3 separate regions of the Homo sapiens genome follow, and all the other regions are linked to region 2. The links come from fine-mapping of genetic effects on gene expression. A gene starts in region 2. Each other region holds a variant in brackets. All regions are shown on one strand. Distances are between the middles of the regions.

Region 1 (4,000 bases), 31 kb before region 2:
CTCCTCCTATCTCTCAATCAAGAGAAGGATGCTAATTTATGGCCCAGGAAGAGAAGAGGCAGTGTGGCCTTCTATTAATAGTAGCAAGCCAAGAAGCAAGAGATGGATATTCGGTGCCTGGGTTTTTCCCTGACAGTTAAGTTGGGCCTTAGTGGAGGTTAGCATGCACCTAGAAGCCAAGGTGGGCTCAGATCCCACACACAAGGTGGCCCTGGAAAGTCACTGCCTCTCTCTAGATTTGATGCTCCCTTTATAAAATGAAAATGTTTAGTTCATCTCAGAAGCCCCCTCTGTCTCTGACAGTGTATGACTATGTGGGGAGGCAGGAACCAGATGAGACCAAATGCCAGGGCATTACAGGACCAAGCCGCCAATCCTGATGCAAATGACAAGCCTTGGAGGAGTGACTCCCAGAGCTTGGGTAGCCTGGGTTGATGCTTCCTCTTTCTTTGCAAAATGCCCTGAAGGGCTGGGACTGGGACAGGGGTGGGGCTATGAAAGGATGAGGAAGTATCTAAGAGCAGCTGGTTATTCTTCCACTCAACCCTGCCCTCCCCTCTTGCAGGCAGGTGGATGACTCAGCTGGAGAACAAAGTGGCTTCCTGAGGTGGAGTTTCCAGCTTGCCCAGCCCTTCCCCATTCTCCAGTCCCAGTAGAGATGGGGTACAGAAGAGTCCATAATTCAACACCCTTTTCTCACCACCCAGCCAACACATACATGCACTGCTCCATCCTCTGCTCCTGTATGGAAGATACTTCCCCCTGAGCTTAGCCCCTCCCCACAGACATCAACTTCTCTTTTATCCATTTAGGATCATCCCCTGCTCCAGAGCCAACAATTGATTCCCCAAAACTTTAAAGTAGCCCCGACTTTTCTGGTGAAAATGAGAAGAGGCACTATCAACTGGCCGAGGTTCTTTTAGGCATTGAACTTCAAGGCTCTCCTACTGCCCTAACTCAGTCATGGGATATCCACAAAAAACTTAAGAGCTTAGCCTTTTTCTCTCAGCTGGGCTTAGCCCCATAGATGAAAGACATTCCTTGTTAAGGGTAAGGTGTAGCTGCTGCAGATACAGTTTGCCTTTAGAGATATGGACAGGAGCCCTGGATAACAAGACACGTAGTGAGGGAAAACATCTTGATTGGTATCAAGAGAAGACAGGGGTTGAGTCCTGACTAAACTATTTACTAACATTAGGAATTATATTAGCAAATTTTCTGAGCTTCAGATTCCTCATTCTAAAGTAGAAACAACAGTCCTTTCTGCCCAGCCCTATTCACGATGTAACAAGTTTCAAATGACCTAATTGGAATGAAGACTATACGTGCTACATAAAGTGGTTATTCCTCACATGTTAGAAAATATGCAGTTGAGGCAGCTGCAATAGCTTTTCTTTAAATACTACTAGTCCTCAGCTTCCAAACCAGAAGCTCTGTGCCTTACTGCCTTACTCCTTGACTGGTGAGTTCAGAGTAAGGTGGAGCTGCTGCAGATACAGTTTGCCTTTAGAGATAAGGACAGGAGCACTGGATAACAAGACACGTAGTGAGGGAAAACATCTTGATTGGTATCAACTAAGAGACAATAGGGGTTCAACTACTTACTAACATTAGGAATTATACTAGCAAATTTTCTGAGCTTCAGATTCCTCATTCTGAAGTAGTAATAGTCCTTTCTGCACAGCCCTATTCATTATGTAACAAGTTTCAAATGACCTAATTGGAATGAAGACTATAATTGCTACATAAAGTGGTTATTCATCACGTTAGAAAATATGCAGTTGAGGCAGGTGCAATAGCCTTTCTTTAAATACTACTAGTCCTCAGCTTCCAAACCAGAAGCTCTGTGCCTTATTGCCTTACTCCTTGGCTGGTGAGTTCAGAGAACCCAAAGTGGGACAGATGGGCCATGCTGGGGTTCTTGGACTTACCACCACTTCCTTGTACTAAAAAACTAAGTACCCTCTAAGGGGCAAATTTATGTGGTTTGGGCAGGTCACAGTCAAGGGTCCAAGCAGCTATGTAGAAATGAAGTC[A/G]CCTGTGCACATGGGGTCTCCATACACAGATGTGCCATCCTTGTCGACATCTAATAAAAATATATATGAAGTTGGTAGGTGTCTCAAATAAGTAACTTAGTGAAATCAGGGCACTAGTGCAGCATTTGAAATAAAAGTCAACCAGCATCTGGGCCTATATCTGGCCTCCCTTTAGGCCTTGCTGGTGCTAGCTGAGATCGTTCAGTGTCTCGCAAGGATGTTTTCTCCTTCTCTCTAGAGTCATATGCTAAAGAGGCCACAATCTTAAGACGTGACTAAAGCCAATATCCCTCTCTACTTCTGGGCTAAATTGTGATGGAAAATGCTGAGCCTGGTTCTACAGAGTTTGCTCTGCTAGTGATAAGCAGTGTGATCCTGAGGAAGTCAATTTCCACTCTAAATCTCATAAGCAATGACTTCCTCAATAAGCAATGAGAGGAGAAGGAGAGAGAGAATTATTGCTCTACCTATACCACAGAGTGTTGTGTGAACACTTGAAGGAACTAATGGCTGAACATATTTTTGTACAAGATTGAGGAAATACTATCTGCTGAAACAAACATCAACAGAATGGACATCTACTTTAACAGAAAAGTAAATACTCTTCCAACCAGTTGCCTTTTATGGGAGATAAGACTACTTGTGGTGGCACACATCTAGCTACTTCAGCCATACGGAGTGTTCTGCTTTCAGGGTCCCAAGGTACATCTAAGACATCCATTGAGTTACATTATCACTTTCACTTTTTACCATTTTCATTACTCTCACAAATTGGAGACAGCATAAATAGCAGCCCAAAATGTAAACTGTGGTAGTTCTAGTGACAGATCATCCAAGAATTTCACCATCTGCTACCTTTCACAGAAATTTAGTGCTGAGACGCCTTTTAGATCACTTCTATCAACTCAAGCAGCTCAGTGCTTGTGTCTAGATCCCTTGTCTAGCAGAGCTTCACAGAAGAAGGTCAGAGCTGCTAGATTAGAGTTTACTGCTCTTTCCAGGCAAATCCTGCCTTGCCTGGGACTATCTGCAGGAGTCAGTGATCTTCCCCAAACAGAGAATGGTACAGAGGCTGAAAGAGGGAATCCCCTTTCCTTCCGTAACTCCCAGTCACTAAAGAACCCATCTTCCTCCAGTGAAACTACAGTACCTCATTTCATATTTGGAAACCAGCCTGCATCCTTTTGTACTCTGAAGTCTCGGGGATGGTACAACTATACAACTGAGAGGTGGCAGGAAAGGAAGCATGAGCTCTAGTATCAGAAAGATACTGCTGAAATAGGTTTCAGTTAGCATTGACAAGAACAGGGGGGTAAGCAACCCAAGAACACGTTACAGGCTTGCTAGAAAACAGGAACTTTCCAAAGGCTAGCTTAAGACTGACGTGCTTTTTACACCTCAATTACACTTCAGTCTACCCTATTCTGATGAGCTCCTGGAGGGCAGGGATACTGCTAAGAGTCTGCCACTTATAGGCTGTCAAATTGCTGACATCTGTGCTAAAACATGCATGCCTACTTCTTCTGAACCTAAGCTTCTCAGTCATTGAAAACAATTCAAGTCAGGTGTGGTGGCACGTACCGATAATACCAGCTACTCAGGAGGCTGAGGCGGGAGAATCACTTAAGCCCAGGAGTTTGAGACCAGCCTAGGCAACATCTCAAAAAAGAAGAATTCACAAGAATATCATCACAGAAAATGCACAGGCCAAGGAGTCCAAAGGCATGGATTCAATTCTTGGCACTGCCATTCACTAGCTGTGTGACTTTAGCTAAGTCACTTCATATCTCTGAGCCTTGATCTCATAAAATGCAACTATCAGCAACCCTTGCAGGAATTTACAAAAATTAAATACATGTCAAAGCATATTATGCATATCTTGAATTAATACCCAACTACTAAAAACAAAAATGTTCCTATCCTCCAAAAACATAAGTTTCTTTGGAAAAAGAACTCTGCCTACC
Region 2 (4,000 bases):
AACTTCTTTCACATTATTACCATTTATTGAGTCCTCATGGTTAAAATTTTACGAACAGTCTCATTATTTAATTCTCACAATCTTAAGAGGCAGGTATTTTCCTTTTTATAAAGTAGAGAACTGAGACTCAGAAAAGTTAACTTTTCCAAGGTCATAAAGTAAATATAAGACCTGAGTCAGGATCTAAACCGAGGTCTACGTGATTCCAAAGCTCAGTGCTCTCAATTGTTGCTAGAAGGATGGTCTAATCAAAAAGTTAAAATACTTTAGGCCAATTCAGAATATTTAATATTCTTTGTTAAAAAATAAAAGGACCTTGTATAACCAACATTCAAGTTCAAACCAAACAGGAGAAATACCCTGACGGTCTATCTTGTTCTGAATTAATTACTTCAAAGACAACCTTTATAAAAGCACACTACCATTATACCATATTTCAAAACACAAACCTAACCTTTAACCCCAAAGTCTCAAGAGATTCAAATAGTTTCACATCATCTCAGATACCTTCGGCAAAAGGTATGCTGTCATATACTTTTTGTAATCCAGGCCTCAGTTTTGTATTTGTAAAATGAACTAAGTACCCTGAAAGTACTTTCCAGTATGGAGGGGGAGGGTGGATACCAAAAGTATTCACCCTATACAGTAGAATATTCTGAGTCAGAGGAGTAAGAGATGATAAGAGTATAACAGCAGACTAGTTAGTATAACAAGATTTGCAAAGTATTGGGAAAGCAAAGAAATCTTTCCTGCTTGGTTTAGTCAATCATTCTTAGCACCCAATGGCAAAGACAGAAACAGTCACCATGCTTAACACTCTTGAAACTCCACCCTCCACAGTAAAGCTTTAATAGCAATGGCTTCTTCCTCAGTGGTAATGATCTTTGTTCGGCACACTACTGATGGCTACCTTCCCAATTCAGGAGCAGAGAAAGAGCATCAGAGTGAGAGTGCATTCACTGAACAAAAAAAGCATCTACTGTACTCTCTTCTCATTGAAAAATGTACCCTTTATCTTCGTTGATTAAAAAAAAAAACCGGATTCCTTCCGGACTCAACCAATAAGCAATTCTTTCTAACCAACCCTGACCCTCCAATATGTTCTGTCCAAGGGCACTACATGTTTCCGTATCTTATAATAAATATTTAATGTAACCAAAAGAGCACACAACTTCCTCCCACCCCCAACCTTTTGGGAAAGGTATGTGGCTAACTAGGGCTCTTCCCTTCCTGTTGGATCCTCCCAGCGTTGCAGCAGGAAGCAACCAGTTCATAGAGATAAAGCAAGCTAGTATTTGTGCAGCGCACAACCTTTCCTGCTCAGGAACCAGGCCTTCAGGTCTGGCAAGGATAACAGCCACCACCCATCCGCAACCTCATCTCGCGAACCGAGTAAAGAGTTATCCCGGGTTGGGTGCCACTGAGTAGGGAGGGCAAGAAAAGAAAAGGCTAGGTGGGAAGTAATGTCAGCCTGCCGGGTCACTGCGACAAGTGCGCGAGTGGGTGATGGGCGATCCCTCTTACCCTCCCTCCCACCACCCAGGTCGCAACGGAGACAAGGGAGCTCTAAACACGATTTGGGGAGGGAAGGTAGAGAGAGTTGCCAAATGGGGAGTGGGAGAGGGAGCGGTCAGAGAAGGTTAAGGACCGCGAGAACCGCGGGGCGGAGGGTGGGGGCGGAGGCCCTTGGCCCGCTCAGATTTTACGGGGTCCTGGACCCGGGATGGGAGAAGCTTAGAGGGGCGGCCGTCCAAGTGGAGGGGAGATACAGAAGAGACGCTCGCTCGAGGGGGGAAAGAGGGCAGATAAGAAAAAGACCTGTAATGGGAGTCTGCACCGAAGGCAAGGCCAAGAGGGAAGCGAAGAACCCGTCAGAGGGGCTTCGGGAGAGGACGCGAGCTGGGAAGGGTGTACGCCGAGGGGGAGGGGGCGCTACACCCGAAAAGAGAGATGGTGGGAGGAGCGGCGGGGCCGTAGAACCCGGGGAAAGGAATTCGACGATGTGGGAGAAGGCAGTCCGCCAGGGGAAGGACACGCAGGGAGGGGCTCTGAGGCCAGCGAAGGCCTATGGAGAGGTCGCTCAGAGAGCGGCATGTGATGGGGACCCCTGTCTGAGCGGGGGAGAAGAGGCTGAGCTGGGTAGGAGACGGAACCGCACAAAAAGGAAGGGCTGAGGGAGGCCTATATCAGTGCAGGGGTGGCCGGCACGAGGGTCCACCGGGAGTGGCCCGGGTCCCCGAACGAGGACTGTGTAGAGTGCGAGAGCCCATGGCCTCACCTTTAAAGAGGTAGTCGTACTCGTCGTCGCGGGTGCCCATTGCGCGGCCGAGGAGCGAAAGGGCGGGAGCAGCAGTGGTATCTGTGGGACCAGGGGGCGTCGCTGCAGGGGTAACCCGAGCGCCGAGCTTCAACTGCCGGACTGGGTGAAGAGCCCCTCCCTGCCGCTGCGCCATTTCCGGCAGGCCCCAGCCTTTAAGGGGAAGTACTTCCGGGGGCGGCGCCCCGCCCCTGAGCCCAACAAGGGCGGTGTGCGCGAGAGTCGAGATGCGTGGGGCTTCAAGCTTTAGTCGCTAAAGGAGGCTCAAAGGGGAAACTGAGTCCTGGAACTCCTAGCTACCATAGTCTTAGTGGCCGCTTGCTCATTTCTCGAGCTACCGTGCCGGAAGCGGCTCGCTGGAACCAGGCGGGACCGCCTGTGAGTGGTGGGTTTGTGGATGGGGGCGGGGTTCTCTGAGGATTAGACAGCCGAAGGCAGCTACACATGCGTGGCGGTTCCATGGTGTAATGGTTAGCACTCTGGACTCTGAATCCAGCGATCCGAGTTCAAATCTCGGTGGAACCTGCATTGGTTTTTGTTTTTTTAATCTTGACAACATCTTTAATTCACTTTTTTGGTCACTAAGTAATTGAACAACTATGACACATCTTAAGATGGAGATGTAAAATTTAATCCTTGCCTATGAAGACCTCACAAATTTCCCACTGCATTTCAGGTGCTATCTGCTACCTGGCGGGGGGTTGTCTTAATGAGCTTCTTCACTGCCTTTTTTTTAACCCTGGGCTTTCAAGCCTTGATTCAAAAGCTTCAGTGAAACTTGAAAATTCCTTTTGCTGGAATTTTCTACCTCCAGCTTCATGCACGGGTAGGCGCTTGTCACTCACTCCTCTCCGGAAATCTCGCAATCTATCTCATTTTCATTTAGAGTACTTCGCCCACCCTCCTCATCAAGATTCATCAAGAACTTGAGTCCTATTTGTAGGCCTCTAATCTAAGTCCGTTTACATAAGTATTTCATTTAACATGCCAAGCAAAGGATGGTAATTTCCATTTTAGCGGAAGTTTGGATACTAAGACTCAAGTGATTTGCCAGATATCATGTCGCAGGGCCTCCCTGTATTTGAAGAGAATTTTGTCATTCCAGAAAAGCCTTTATCCAATTATTGTCACACCTCCTACCTCCTATATGCAAACTCTCGATTTAGACTTGTGGGCAAGTATGCCTATAACAAGCAGAATAATGCCCCCTGCCAATGATGTCCACTTCCCAATTCCTGGAGACTGAATAGGTTAGGTTACATGGCAAAGGGGAATTGAGGTTACAGATGAAATTAAGGTTGCTTATCAGCTGACATTAAATTAGGGATATTATCCTGGATTAGTTGGGTGGGCCCAGTGTTGTCATAAGGTCCTTAAAAGTAGAAAATGGGCTGGGCACGGTGGCTCAGGCCTTAATTCCAGCACTTTGGGAGGCCAAGGTGGGTGGATCACCTGAGGTCAAGAGTTCAAGACCAGCCTGGCCAACAAGGTGAAACCCTGTCGCTACTAAAATACAAAAAATTAGTCTGGCGTGGTGGTGGGTGCCTGTAGTCCCAGCTACTCTGGAGGCTTAGGCATGAGAATTGCTGGAACCCGGGAAGCGGAGGTTGCAGTGAGCTGATACCACGCCACTGCACTCCAGCCTGGGCAACAGAGAGAGACTCGTTCTCAAAAAAAAAAAAA
Region 3 (4,296 bases), 120 kb before region 2:
TGCAAAGTCTCTCACACTTACTGTTCCTTCCCATTATCTGTCCACACAATACTGTGGCATTCTACATCCAGAGCAGATGCTGATTTAAAAAAAAAAAAAAAGTCCCCGATAAAGTCCCTGATAAAGTCCCCGAAGTTGATAAATTTGACTTTCCCATCTTCCCACCTCCTCTCTCCTAAAGCAGGTCAATAAACATACACATACCCTGCTGAATCTGGCTTCCAGATCTGCTAATTGCCACTTGGATATTAAGAGATAACTGAGATATTAATGGCTGATAGTGCCTCAGGATGTGACTAACCCCCCCCCCCACACACACACACAGAGGCACAAACGGGGTTGTTTGCATTTTAATAGGGATTCCTGCAGCCCTTGAGGAACGGGGTCCTAATGGTGCAGTGCCAAGCAGGTGCAGTGATATTTCAAGCAGGGGCTCAGTGTTGGTTTCAATTCAGCCATCTGCAGAGAGATGCCCGGCTCTGATAAAACTGCTCCTGAATCTCCCCACTCACTCCTGAAATGTTGATGGTGATACTCCTGGTTGAAATGGACCTGGCTGCCTGGAGCTGTGGTGGAAGCTACGGCAATAGAGATGAGGAAGGTAATGAGCTGGAGCAACTGCCTTTGCTCAGGGCATTGAATGTACCCATGGCCTTTGTTCCCCCTCCTGCCCTGCTGCCCGAGACACTGCCCGCTCCCGGGCCTCCTTGTCTCTAGCCTGACAGTGGAGCACCCTCCCCAGTTTTAGCAGACAGCTTGCCCAGAGCTCCTCTCATCACCCCGTGTTCTGACAGTTTCCCATTTGCTTGTCTGTTTCTCAAACTGACTGCAGGCTTCTGAGCCCCTAACATGATAGGTGCTTGATAATTGTTTGACATTGAGCCTCTCATCTCGTAATAGCTGGTGTGATGGGAGGCAAAGAGCCCTAGATGGATACAGTCAGCTAGTTTCAAATGCAGCTCTCCAGTTTGTTAGCTGTGTGGTCACGGGCAAGTCATTCAGCTTCTCTGGCCCAGTTTCCTGACCTGTAAAATGTGGAGTGTACACAAGATGACTTCTAAAGCCTAGCAGTAAAGAAAGCCAATATATGACTCTCAACTTCACCTTTCACAATCAGGTGATGTTACCCACTGCCAGGGGATGTTTGTCAATATCTGGAGGCACTTTTGATTGCCACAATTGTGTGTATGTGTGTCGGGGAGGTACTACTGGCATCTCGTGGGTAGAGGCCAGGGATGCCACTAAATGCCCTGCAATGCACAGGATGGTTCCCCATAGCAAAGAATTTTCTGGCCCAAAATGTGCTGAGGTTGAGAAGCCCTGATTTAGTTATTTAATGCCTCTGAACCTCAGTTTTCTCATTGGAAAATGGAATCATAATCACATCTCACATGGTTTACCTCAGATCCTCTTTGGAATGAGGCAGGGTATGAATAACTGGCACAGGATTAGTAAGAAAATTAGAGGAAACAACCCATGGGAGAATGCAGCTGGTCCCTGGTAAGCTCTCGGGGTTAGGGTTTTCCCCACGTGCGTGTGCTCACTCCTCCATCCCTGCTACCCTAGGAGATGGGTGGGATATGCAGCCGCAGCCTCTGTGAATCCCAGCCTCCCCTTGGAGGTTTAAGGGAGGTATAGACGGTGTGGTTAAGTAACACCGAGTAACAAGTGTAATAAATAGATCACTAAGAGCTAATGATACATCATTATAATCCTGTGCTGTCAGCATCTTCTAGGCTTAGGGACTGTGTCAAGAGATTTGGGTTTTAATCTACCTTGGTCTATTAATATTTAATTCCAACAATCTAAGTGGCAGAAAGATAGGAAACTGAGTGATAGCTCAGCTCAGAGCTCGGGTAACCACCTCCAATTTTTCTTTTTCATACAAACACACCTCCTATCCCTGTGTCCTCTGGCCTGTTTCTCAAGTGGGGACATTTGGCAACAGGGCAGAGAATCACACAGCATTGGGACTTGAAGAGTCTCCAGCATTTACCTACCAGTGTTTGTTTGTTTCTTTCTTTTTCTTTCTTTCTTTCTTTCTTTCTTCCTTCCTTTCTTTCTTTCTCTTCCTTTCTTCCTTTCTTCCCTTTCTTCCCTTCCCTTCCTTCTTTTTTCTTTTCCTTTCTCTTTTTTTCTTTTCTTTTTTTTCTTTTCTTTTCTTTTCTTTCTTTCTTTCCTTTCTTCCCTTGCTTGCTTGTTTGCTTGCTTTTGGACAGGGTCTCACCATGTTACCAAGGTTGGAGTACAGTGGCGCCATCACAGCTCACTGCAGCCCGACCTCTCAGGCCCAAGCAATTCTCCCACCTCAGCCTCCTGAGTAGTTGGGACTACAGGCACATGCCGCCACACCAAGCTAATTTTTATAATTTTTGTAGAGATGGGGTTTTGCCACGTTGCCCAGGCTGGTCTTGAACTCCTGGACTCAAGCTACCCTTCTGCCTCAGCCTTTCAAAGTGTTGGGATTACAGGTGTGAGCCACCGCATCTGGCCCAGTATTTCTGAATGGGGACATCTTTGGCATTTTTTATTTGTATTTTATTTATCTTATTTTTAGAGACAG[AGT/T]CTCTGTTGCACAGCTGGAGAGCAGTGGTACAGTCATAGCTCACTGCAGCCTCGACCTCCTGGGCTCAAGTGATCCTCTTACCTCAGCCTCCCAAGTAGCTGGGACTACAGGTGTGCACCACCACAGCTGGATAATTTTAGCTTTTGGTAGATAATTTTAGCTTTTGGTAGAGACAGGGTCTCACTGTGTTGTCCAGGCTGGTCTCAAGTGTCTAATCTCAGTGATCCTCCTTCCTCGGCCTCCCAAAGTTTTGGGATTACAGGTACGAGCCATTGCACACAGCCAGGATACAGTTCTAAATTGTGTACAATTGTCCCTGGGATTATTTGTGACAACCTAAATTCCCCCCTCCCATTTCCAGATGCTGTCTTGGGGAGGGTGACCTACTCCAGGCAAGAACCACTGATCCAAACCTGTTTTACAGATGTAAAAACAGAGGCCCAAAGAGGGAAGGAGGCTGCCCAGGAGTACCCAGCATTGGCTCTGACCCATCCTTCAGTGCTCCCTCAGAATTGCAGCTTAGGCCTGGAAAGAGCAAGGGGCTCAGCCTCGGAGAACTTGACTTTGCTTTTACTGGGGCAAGTCAGTTGACAAATGGCCTCACTCACTGGGAAGTCACTTTATTTATCAGCTGGAATGGTTTCCGGCGGCTGCTGCTCCATCTCTGCCTCCCTGCCTACTGCTTTGTAAACTCAGGAGCAATCCCGTGACCTGTCAGCTCTCGCTGCTGCTTCTGTGGGTGGGGTGGAAGATTGGGGGCCACAGACCTTTCTGGGAGGGGCTGTGACTGCATCAGGCCTTCCCATTGCTGGAGAGGAGAAGGGAGGTGGGGGCCTTGGCCCAGTCCTTAGTACAAGCTGGGGTAGCTCAGGGGCAGTGGCTTCCAGGTTCATTTCCATCCCTTGACCTTCAATTCAGAGGCCAACTCCTCCTGCTTGCTGGGTCTCAGGATTCCTGTCTATGGAATGGGAAGGACTAACCTTCTCTCCCACCCCACCTCCAGCCCAGCATCCTCCTGCACATCTCCCTGAGAGGACCAGTGAGAACAGAGATCATGGGAAAAAAGAGTTCTCACCTGGGGAGCTTTTCAAGGGACCTATGCTTGGGCCCTACCACCCTAGACCAATTCATTTGGAATGGCCATGGGTAGATCTCAAGCAAGAGTGTTTCTTAAAACTGCCCCAGTGATGCTGATCTGCAGCCAGGCCAAGAACCACTGTCTGAAGAAGTGAATCCTACAAGCAGCTGGGAGGGGGTTCTTTGGTAGCTGGGAGAAGGGCTGGCCAGTCACCTTCAACAGCACTGCTGACAGCTCTTCTTGTGCCCCGCTGAGCTGGCTGCAGGGTGGGACCAGATGGTGGATGTGGGGAAAGTAAAGGGCAATCACAAACTAAGGACACACCTTAGCTCCTGTCTTCCTCCAGCCCAGAGAGACTCCAGGGCTAATGCAGCAGACTGGGCACAGGCACCTAAACCTTCCTATACAGTAGTGAAGGCAGAAAAGTAATGGTCGGCCGCATTATTTATTATTCCTAGTACAGTCCATAACGGCATCAAAACATATTTAGTTGTGTCCCTTTAATGAATTGTCTTCAGGGACTCTAAAAGATACTTATATCCCAGTGTTCACTGTTGTCTTCTAGACAATAACCAAAAGGTGGAACAACTCAGTGTCATCAACAGACGAATGGATAAACAAAATGTAGTCTGTCCATACAATTGAATAGTAT

The links. PIP is the estimated chance that this variant, and not a neighbour inherited with it, causes the effect. A credible set is the group of variants that fine-mapping cannot tell apart.
Region 1: its variant is the best candidate, but not a certain one, in a credible set for the expression of RAB11A in whole blood (TOPMed, PIP 0.55).
Region 3: its variant is the best candidate, but not a certain one, in a credible set for the expression of RAB11A in whole blood (TOPMed, PIP 0.89).

Annotation. Positions count from the first base shown.
Region 1 is chr15:65,899,103-65,903,102 of GRCh38, reverse strand. The region is part of intron 24 of MEGF11 (multiple EGF like domains 11); the gene reads left to right. Among named protein-coding and RNA genes, the nearest start is that of RAB11A, 32 kb to the right of the region's middle. RefSeq lists enhancers at 1-440, 527-746 and a silencer at 443-607. The variant A/G (reference allele first, on the strand shown) is at 2,037.
Region 2 is chr15:65,867,904-65,871,903 of GRCh38, reverse strand. It overlaps RAB11A (RAB11A, member RAS oncogene family), which reads right to left and starts at 2,413. Exons shown (of 5, transcript NM_004663.5): 1 at 2,279-2,413. The coding sequence starts at 2,318. TRQ-CTG1-4 (tRNA-Gln (anticodon CTG) 1-4) reads left to right here and starts at 2,771; the gene lies at 2,771-2,842. RefSeq lists an enhancer at 2,540-2,599.
Region 3 is chr15:65,988,466-65,992,761 of GRCh38, reverse strand. The region is part of intron 5 of MEGF11 (multiple EGF like domains 11); the gene reads left to right. Among named protein-coding and RNA genes, the nearest start is that of MIR4311, 50 kb to the left of the region's middle. The variant AGT/T (reference allele first, on the strand shown) is at 2,564.